2 separate regions of the Homo sapiens genome follow, and region 1 is linked to region 2. The links come from fine-mapping of genetic effects on gene expression. A gene starts in region 2. The other region holds a variant in brackets. All regions are shown on one strand. Distances are between the middles of the regions.

Region 1 (5,452 bases), 130 kb after region 2:
AAAGGCAAAGGATTGACTGTGTTATCTCCCTAGTTAGAACAAATGATATTGAGGCTTTTTGCCAGCTCTGAATCTTTATTTTAATTGATCTTTTTATTGATGTGTTATATAAATGAGGAAGAAAAATTTTGTCTGATTATGTGAAGGATCTTTCTGTACATGAAAAGAAGGGAAAATAAACTTGCAATTGAATAGACTGATTATAGTAGCACTGAGACACAAAAAGATTGACCATGTTGCCCTCCAGACACTCATACAAGGTCGTGGACACCACGGTGAGGCGGAGCTATTTAGGGTGGTAAAGGAATTATGATTGTTCTTGAGCCAAAGTAATTTAGTTTGAATATAATGAAACATACCCTGTAAAGACTGCTAGAAAGTAAAAGGATTCGTCTTCAGAGGTTGTAGAAGGTGCCCTTCTTAGTTAAAACCAAACTGGGAAAAGTAATACTGGATAAAATATTCAGGATAAATTTTGCCTCAGCAGAATTTCAAAGGGCAGTTGTTCCTCTGTTTCATTATTGAATCTTCAGAATATAGTTAAAGCCAAAAGCTTAAAATATGTTAAATGTTTCACTTATAACCATAATCTTTTTACATAGAGCATACTCTGCCTTCATAATAACTAAATCCTCTGCATGTGGTAGATGAGTACGTTTAGGAAATATTGTCAGTGCAATTAAATGGCCTACACTTTAAACAGTATCATAAAAACAAATCCTTAAATATATTCTACTTGAGTCACAAAAGCTGAACAACAGAAAGGTGTTTTGTTTTTGCCTTTCTCACAGTGTTGTGGTGAGAATCAGATGAGATAGTATTTTGACTAAACACTTCTGAAATTGTAAATATATGGTGGCATTATTGTTCTTATGTCGGCTTAGGAGGATACCAAAGGGGAAGTTAATGGTCACAGTGCACTTATGTAGCTTTCTAAGCTACTCAATGTGATTCTTGTTCTCTTTGCTGTTCTTTTTCTCCTCCCCCATGGTGTCCTTCAGAGAGAAAAGGAATGTAGATAAATGAATCCCTGCAGATGTGTCCTGACATTTCAGGGAGGGACAGGGTATAATGATGCCATCCTGCAAAGGCAGCCTGTGTGAGAAAAAGAAATCAAATAATGTGGATTTTAAAATTACGAAAGACATTCATTTGCAGTTTATGAAAGGAAAATGTAGTTTGGATACAAAGCTGATTAAATTGGATCAAGAAATATTAGAATTAAATGCAAAAAATAATCCATGCATTTATGGTTTTGATTTTTATATATTCCCAGCTAGTTGAAAATGATGATTCCCACAAGAAGCATAACTCAGCTTGTTTCTGCTTACTGAGTATTTTCTACTATGGTATATATTGATAACATTTCTTCCATTATGTATGTTGTATACCAGAGTTACAGTTACTGTGGGAATCATAATTTGAAATTTTGACTCCTGTGTTTCTGGAATCTTTACAACAAATGTTGCATTAACATATAACTTTTTTCAGTTGACTTTACCAAAATTAAGCCCATCTTTAGTAGATACTGTTTTAACATGTGAAAGAAATACGTTATAAACATACCACAAGATATGGCTATAAAACAATGAGATCAGTATCCATTTTTGCTTTAAAGAATTGGCCTTATTGCTTCAGTGTCACATCTCATACTCAAGGGCATTTACTACAAAGAAAGAGTTCTCCAATATTGCTGTTCTGTTGCTGCCTGCCCTATTTACACATGTACCTGCTACTTAAATAGGAAAGCCTTTCAATTCATGGACAATACACCTTGGTGGTAACCAGGCTTTTATTTTTATTTTTTTTTCTTAGTGTAAAAACTGTACTGTTTTGGAAATGTGCTGTGAAATATTAGGTTTAACTGTGTAGATCCTAGAATAAGGGGATTTATATAGATGAAGTTGTAACCAAGAAACTGGTTATTAAAAATTTATTTACTCCAAACATGGAAAGGTGGCAGTGTCATTCTTGTGTCACCTGCACAGTTTGCAGTCTCAGAGACTTCAGAGGACTCTGAGATTTGCCTGCTGAGGTATACCCAGTCATAGGGTCTGCCAGGTGGGAATCACATGATACGACCCACGTTCAGTTTTCTCTCTTTTGACTATGGTAGTGCCAGCTTTGACTGTGCTAGAGTTTCAGGGACGGACATGAGCGAAACTTTCTTAGGGGGGGTCATTTAATAAGGTCATAAATGTAAAGCAAATTGGCTGGGCATGGTGGCTCATACCTGTAATCCCAGCACTTTGGGAGGCAGAGGCGGGTGGATCATGAGTTCAGGAGATTGAGACCATCCTGGCTAACACGGTGAAACCCCATCTCTACTGAAAATACAAAAAATTAGCCGGGCGAGGTGGCGGGTGCCTGTAGTCCCAGCTACTCGGGAGGCTGAGGCAGGAGAATGGCGTGAACCTCCGGGGGGCGGAGCCTGCAGTGAGCCGAGATTGCGCCACTGCACTCCAGCCTGGGCGACAGAGCGAGACTCCGTCTCAAAAAAAAAAAAAAAAAAAAAATGTAAAGCAAATCACACAATGTCTGACATATAGGAAAAGTCAATGTTTTGTTCTTTGCTGGGCAGGACTATCTTGCTTTTAACTTCCACTCAGGCCCAGGGTCTTGTCACTCTTTAGAGAACATTAGCTTTGCTATTCCTAGACTGTCCTTTTCCCATCTGTTTTCAGCAGGCATAAATTTTGGGTAACAGTTTCTTTCGATACTATCCAACGATTTTAATCCATAGACTCTCTTGCCTCCCTTTTCTAGATTTTTCTCCTATTTTAGGTAGATTGAGGCTTTTCTCATCTTCCCTCAGCCTTAGTGTTCCACTGTCTTCTTTTTTCATATTCAGTCCACTCTGTTGGGAACATACCTTTAACATGATTTAAGGGACAGTCTTTCCTCACCCTCAGGTTGCAGATGTCTGGATAATAATCTAGTACTGCAAAACAGTGAGCATTACATTTCCAAGAGAACATATCCCCTACTTTCCCTACCCTTTGTTAGAGCTTTTTTAGTTTCAAATGATAACAACCAAAGTAGAACAAATGTAGGCCAAGAGGGGAATTTGCCAGAAGAATATTAGGATATTTTGTATAATCTTTCAGAAGTGGGGTCAGGTCTGAGCCTCATCAGGCACTGGAGTATCACCTGGACTCA[C/T]TCTCTCTCTCTGTGTTCCCTTTATTCCTCCTGGAAACTGACTTTCTCACATGATGGATAGAACCTCATATCCCATGCTTCTACCACAAGAGAGAGGTAAATTACTGTCTTCCTTTAATTCCAGTTCTACAAGTCTTATGGAAGAATAGATTAACCTTATTGGCATCACAGGTTCACAGGCCAGAGGGCTAAGGTCTTGTAAGCCCATAAGGACCTCTGGTGGCATACCCCATTAGCACTCCTCCCAGAGAAGGATGGGATCACAGGAGCCAGGCAGTTACCCTTATTACTTTCTGCTAACTTGCTGTTCAATGGGTGGCTCATGGAGCTGCAGTATCCCCCCTGTAGCTTCCTAGAAATGCAGAATGTGATGCCCACCTCAGACCTACTGAATCAGAATCTGCATTTTAACAATATCCCGAGGAGTTTGTGTGCCCATAAAGTAGGAGAAGCACTGACCTACTACACCTTTCTAGACAAAATAGCTCAATTTTATCTCCTAAAAAGAGATTGTAAAAGAAGATCACAAACACTTGCGAAATAAGCAGCCATGGGTAGCATCTTTTATGGTTAATTGACTCTTTAGCATTATTCCTGACTTCTATTCAGACCTTGTAAGACTGTGTACCACTCTCATTCTCTTTCTTTCTGAGGCTTTTTCAAAATACACTAAATGCTTAAAACAAGCAGCTAATTAGCATTTATATGTGTAGTATCTTCAAATCCCTTGACACTCCTCTCATCAAGACATGGAGTCTAAACTCCCTGCCCCTTGAATATGGGCTGGCCTTAGTGACTTAATTCTAATAAATAGAGTGTTACCGAATACTACTGCATGACTTCAGAGATCATAAAAAGGATTATAACACCTGCCCAGCTCTTTTCTAGGACACTTGCTCTCGGAACCCAGCCACCATCCCCTGAGGAAGCCCAAGCCGCATGGAGAAGTCACATATGTGTATTGTGGAGGGCAGCCTCCCGGCTGAGGTCCCAGCCAGGAGCCAACATCACACTCCAGAGATGTGCAGGAAGGAGCCTCCAGATGTTCCCTGACTGCAACCACAGGAGAGACCCCCAAGTGAGAACCACTTAGTTATCCCCAGAACCATGAGAGAGAATAATTACAAAAGATTGTTATTTTACTCCATTAGTATAGAGTGGTTTGTTGTACAACAATTAGTTATTGAAACACTGTGTTAATGAGTTACACACTCTAGTAGATGCTTATGAGGGATACAAAAATCTAATTAATTAAAGAGTTACCAGTGGATTATAGAAAGGAAAAAAACTACATAGCAGAAAATGACGAGTGCTATGTAAGAGCTATAGGACAGGCACTTAAAGAGAAACTTCTGTTTTTAATTGCTATATAGATATATTATTAATCTTTTATTTACTATCAGTTGAAGAGGCAGAGCATACATCAAGGAGGAAGTAAAATTTGAGTCATGATTTATAGACAACCAGATTAGATTTCTCTATCTCTTGCCCCTCTCTATTTTCCACTATTGTTCTTTTCAAAATTGTGCATTTTCTTCAGTCTTCCTGCTCTACCAACTTAGTTCTTTCATCAAAAGGCTTTGCTTTGTAATCTGAAAATTAAACTGGGAGAAGGTAACCAGCTCAACTTCCTGCTCCACCTTCTACAAATTTGCCTTTATTTTCTCCCATCACACCCCTACCCCACTTCTTTGGGCTCAGATACTGAGGCAGAGATGCCTCTGCTTTGAGTTATTGATCCCATCCCATTTGGGAGCTTGTTTACTCATGTCTTCCTTCAATTTCTTTTTACATAGAAGAGCTTCCCCTTGAATTTTATAAGATGTGTAAGTTTTCCTCATTTTAAAAATTCCTCTCAAAATCCTGTGTCCTCTTCTGAGTGCTTTACAGAGCTCTCCTCTACTTAATTTCATAGCTTTTCTTTCGAAAGAGTGGGCTGCATTCACTTACTGGCTTCCCTGCCTTGCCTTCTCTTCATTGTAAACCCCCTTGTAATCTGGCTTTTGTTCCCACTACTCCCCTGAAATGATTTCCTTTACTGCTATCAGTGATGGAACTGCCAAATCCAATGGAAACTTTGAACTTTGCTAATTTGGAGGTCTTTGCCCCCAAGAGGGAGAATGCTTTCATCATGAGATACAACAATTTCACTGAATTTGAAGAGAACATTGCCACCTGGTCATTTGAGGCTGTTTATGTCACTAAACCAACAGGCCAAAAATAGGGAGTTGCTTCACTGGTTGGAGTGATTGATCTCAATTATCAAAGGGATATTGAGTTGCTGCTACACACT
Region 2 (5,000 bases):
TTTATAAAGGGTAGTTCCTCTGCACATGCTCTCTCACCTGCTGCCATGTAAGATGTGCCTTTGCTCCTTCTTCATCTTCTACCATGATTGTGAGGCTTCCCCAGCCATGTGGAACTGTGAGTCCACTAAGCCTTTTTCTTTAGAAATTATGCAGTCTTGGGTATTTCTTCATAGCAGTATGAAAATGGGTTAATACAAGTAAAGTCTCATCAAAGTGTGGGTATGAAGTTACATCTGGTCATGAATTTGAGGCATAATCATTAATCTTGTCAGACATTATCTTATGTACAGGAAGAGGCAAGGGCTAGGATCACCAAACTTACCTTTTGTAAAAATTCAGTGATTCAGGCAAGAGATGTGCAAACCTATTCCCTATCCTGCTTATGGTCTTCAAGGCATTCTTCCACAAGGCTGCTCACAGTCAATGAGTCAGGGGCTTTGTGAAATATTGCTGGCAAAGGAGCAGAATGAGCAAATGGCTTCTTATCTTTGCTACTTTGTTTCATAATCATCAGCATCCAATAGATATCTGTTGAATTAATGAATACATGGAAGATATTCTGGCAGTGTATTTACTTTCTAGGATTCACGTAACGGAAAACCTAAATTTGACTAAATAGCATGAAACCTCTCACAAAGTGCAATAGCAAAAGAAACAAATAAAAGGAAAAGAGAGACAAGAGAATGGGAAAAGCAATAGCATAAAATATGGCAAAGGCTAATGTTACTTATTTATAAATATATTATTCAAATTCATATGCAAAACATAAATATATAAACAAAGAATTTACATCAGAGGACACAGAGATAGTTTAGAAACACAAGAAAGACATCAGATCTTGATAGTAACCAAAGAATTATAAGTATAGTTACCTAGGGGTAACATTTCATACCAAAGAATTTAAAGGAAAAAAAATGGTATGGTTTGGTGTTGTGTATTCTGATAGTGCTGTAAGCTTGTTCATTTTGGAAAGCAACATCATTTATAGTTATTAAAATGTTTTGGAATATTTTGACCCCAAATTCCTAGTTCAGGAAAATTATACAAACAAAATAATTCAACAGATTTAAAAAGCCAAACACACAAAAGATACTCTTTACAATATTATTTTCATAGTAAAACTTAAAAACTTTGCATTGTGCAGCAGAGGGACAATTACTTTGGCTGAGGCATCAATAATGGATGGAATTTTATCTCACCATTAAATGTTAAAATTGTGAGGAAGCAGCGTGGAAACGTTTATGTCATACTAGATGAAATGCATAAATTAAAACTGAACTCACATAATAAAGAGAATGGTGGACCATACATATACACCAGCTGTGTCTCTTCCAGATAGGCTTTAGTTCCATAATTACAGAAGATACTCAAGAAACAAAAACGTAACTAGCTTCCCATGTTAATCCTTTCACCAGGTAGTAGACCCCAAGCCTCTAAATTGCAGCGCCCACCCACATTTTCCATTTATAGTTTATCCAATTAATCATCTTTTTGTGCCAAAACGCTTGTTCTTCCCACCACATCCAGCTTCATATTTTCAAAGAATTGGCAGCACTCGGCAAAATAAATAAATAAATAAATAAATAAATAAATAAAATAAATAAGGGAACAGAGAAATAAGTTTTTAAAGTTTAAGGAGTTACGGGTTTTCCCTCCACTCACCTTTCAATTTTTTTTCTTAAATGTTATACCTATTTTACAACCTCCAAACTGAAAATGCAGTTAAAAATAAAAAGGTCAATATCCTGCGTCTACCTTGTCCCGGACTCTCGAGCTCCACAAAACCGCAGAGTTCTAAAGCCGGACCAGAGGGCCACCTCGAAGAGGCGCGGATGGTGTCGCAAAAACCCGCAGCGCTACTTTACGGCACTGCCTCCGCCCCTTCAGGTGCGGGAAGTCTGAAGCCGGTAAACATGGCCGTCACCGACAGCCTCAGCCGGGCTGCGACTGTCTTGGCAACTGTGTTGCTCTTGTCCTTCGGCAGCGTGGCCGCTAGTCATATCGAGGTAGGAGTCAGGCTCATTTGACCACAGCCGGGAGGCCGGCTGTGAGCCCTCCAGCAGATGTCCGATACACAGTAGCTGAGGGACGCCTCCTGGAGTCAATCAGCCCCTGACCCAGGCTGGGTTTGAGGAGGGTATCACTGGGCACGGGTTAGGACACTGTTGGTCTGTTTCAGCGTTTTAAAACGATGAATTGAAATAATCAAACCCTCGGAGACAGAGGAGGACCTGATCCTTTGCTCCTACATGTGTGCAGTTCTTAGGTGAAATACGAGCAAGAGGCTCGTGAAATGTCAGTGTGCAGCAACTGCTTTCCTACTACTCAACTGCAGCCCTCTGTTTTGATAGGAGTCAGACGGAACTGGAGAGATGAGGGCAATTTTAAGAATCCAGATAATAGAATTTAGTGATAATTAGAACATGGGATAAATATAAGTGTTTATTAAAACTCTCAAGTTTCTGGCTTAGGGGCAACACGTCTGGGTTAAGAAATGGAAGAGAAAAGGGGTGCTTAGTTTTATCCTGGGCTCCTCCAGCTTCCCATTTTTAAACGTGGACACAGGATGTTCTGGTGCTCTATAATGCTTTTACTATTCACCATACTCTGATGATTCCTCAGTCCCGGTCTACAATCTAGATGTCTGGTATCTTTTTCAGGCCTGCATATCCAGCTGACTAAGAATCCGGGATAGTCAGGAGACATTTGAAAATCCGTGTGCAAAGTTTTATCTTCTGCTTATCCTACCTCCTCTTAAAAAGACACTGAAAAACTAAGCACCCCTTTTCTCCTCCATTTCTCAACCAGATGTGCTGCTCCTAAGCTAGAAACCTGAGAGTCTTAATCTCTTTATCCCATATTCTAATTATCACTAAATTTTGTGATCTGAGTTCTTAAAATTGCCCTCACCTCTCCAGTTCCACTGACTTAATTCAGGCTGTGATCACTTCTTGTCTAGACTCTTGCGATTACTTTATCTTGTTTTCCATAGGCCTCCATACTCCCTGAGTTTGGTGCTAGATTCGTCTACACGAAATGTAAGCCTGATCAGGTTATTCTTCTGATGAAATCTTTTAAATATTTATTAATTGCATACAGAATAAAGTCTAAACGTTATGACCTGGTGCTTGCCTACTTTTCCAGTGTTCCATATTGGAACCTCTTCTCCCCACCACCTGGGCACCTTGAGCTTAGACCAGTGGACTCCAAACTTTTTGAATACACACCCTATCAGTTAAAAAAAGATATTGAGCATGAACTTCATATATATTTATGAATTACTGTTAATTTATATATTTGATGTTTATATAGCATAATTTTTAGAGAACATAAATATGAGTAAATAGAAGTTCTGTTTCCCTCCTTTATTCTAACTTTGACTGCTTCATCTTGGATACTATTACTGTTTTTTGTAGTTACATAATTGCTGTGCTTTTTCACATTACAATATTTTATACATTGTGTTTCCTCTGTTCATGTGCTAAGATACAGTAAAGGCATAACCTCTGTAGAACGTTTCCCTATCTCTTACCTTTGCCTTTACTCTTGTAATTTGTACACTTGATACAGCACTCATTTACTATAACCCGTGTATGGTTTGTACTGTTATTCCATCATATCTCACTTAGAGATAGGAGCAACAGTTTCCTAAATGTTTTGCCTTGAGTCGTTGTTTTTTCCTTTCAATCTGTTCTCCAAATTGAAGCCAGAGTAACTTTTAAAAATGCAGTTCCAATCATGTCACCCAGGGACCTTGATGTTGCTCAAAAGATCACCTTAATGTTGCTCTAAACTCTCCACCATGACCCACAAACAAAAACCCTGCATATTTTTTGGGCCCTGACTACACTTCAAATTTTTTCTTTCTCTTTCAAACTTCTAGTTAGGCTAACTTTCTTTCAGTTTCTCAAAACCTTTAAGCTTTTTCTCACATTAGAGCTGTCTCCCCTCTGTCTGGAATTGTATTTCCTCTTTTCTTCATCTTTTGGATTTTAACCCAACAGTCACTTCTTTAGGAAAACTTTCCTGACCAGGTCAGGTCCCTCTGTTGTACTCTTATTATATTGTGTGTCTTTCCTTATCTGTTAAATGTATATCTATCCAATTAGATAGTAACCTATTTGAAGGCAGTACTATGGCTATTTTTGCCCAGCATTGTATTTGGAGCACTCAGGGCAGTGACTGGCATGTTGCCCAATGAGTGTGATGAATTAATGAATGTAATAATTATAGTGTAATGTGTTTGCATGCTCCTCTTTATTGAACTCTGGATTCTTGAGAGAAAGCAGCATGCTTTTTAGTGATTTTTGTATCACTATATATTAATGGTATCTGGCACATAATAGGTGCTGCATTTACTGTATGTAGAATGAATAACTTTATAATGACTGTATTGTCTAGACAACCACAAAAAAGTTTTGCCATCTAAATTTTTTCACTAAGGTCTGAAAGAAGTAAGAACTTTGGAGGTGGAAGGCACATTAGAGACATGAGGATAGTCAAGTCTAAAGAGCTAAATGACTTACCGCAATTTCACAGCCAGTTGCGAGATAGGACCTAAATTTTAGCTTAGGTCTTTGAATTCCCAAATCAATGCTTAACCACTGTAGCACATTGCTTTCTTTAACATCCAGGCAGCTGTTGAGTTTGGAGGGGGAAAAATACACACACACACACCCCCCCACACACACATGCCACACACACACTTTTTGTTCAGGTTATTATTCTATATTTATCATGTCAATTTATCAGAAACAATGCTTAACAATAGACAACCCATTATAGTTTCATTTAATGTGAAATACTATGTTATTGCCTTGCTAAATTAAGGGTATTTTATCCTAGCCATAGTAATTTCAGAGATCAGTTTTTTCCATCTCTATTGGTAGTTAACGTAAGAATTAACTTGTATTACTACAGCAAATGATATTCTAATGAAAATTGATATTCTTGAGGGTTACATGTACACTCTAAAATCTGTTAATGATATTTCACAAAT

Evidence for each region. PIP is the estimated chance that this variant, and not a neighbour inherited with it, causes the effect. A credible set is the group of variants that fine-mapping cannot tell apart.
Region 1: its variant is the best candidate, but not a certain one, in a credible set for the expression of PIGK in whole blood (TOPMed, PIP 0.57).

Annotation. Positions count from the first base shown.
Region 1 is chr1:77,085,484-77,090,935 of GRCh38, reverse strand. It overlaps PIGK (phosphatidylinositol glycan anchor biosynthesis class K), which reads left to right. Exons shown (of 11, transcript NM_005482.3): 11 at 1-1,947. Among named protein-coding and RNA genes, the nearest start is that of MIR7156, 28 kb to the right of the region's middle. The variant C/T (reference allele first, on the strand shown) is at 3,160.
Region 2 is chr1:77,216,317-77,221,316 of GRCh38, reverse strand. It overlaps PIGK (phosphatidylinositol glycan anchor biosynthesis class K), which reads left to right and starts at 1,887. Exons shown (of 11, transcript NM_005482.3): 1 at 1,887-2,007. The coding sequence starts at 1,915. LOC105378808 (a long non-coding RNA gene) reads right to left here and starts at 1,797. Exons shown (of 3, transcript XR_001738109.2): 1 at 1,664-1,797; 2 at 324-529. RefSeq lists an enhancer at 2,094-2,203.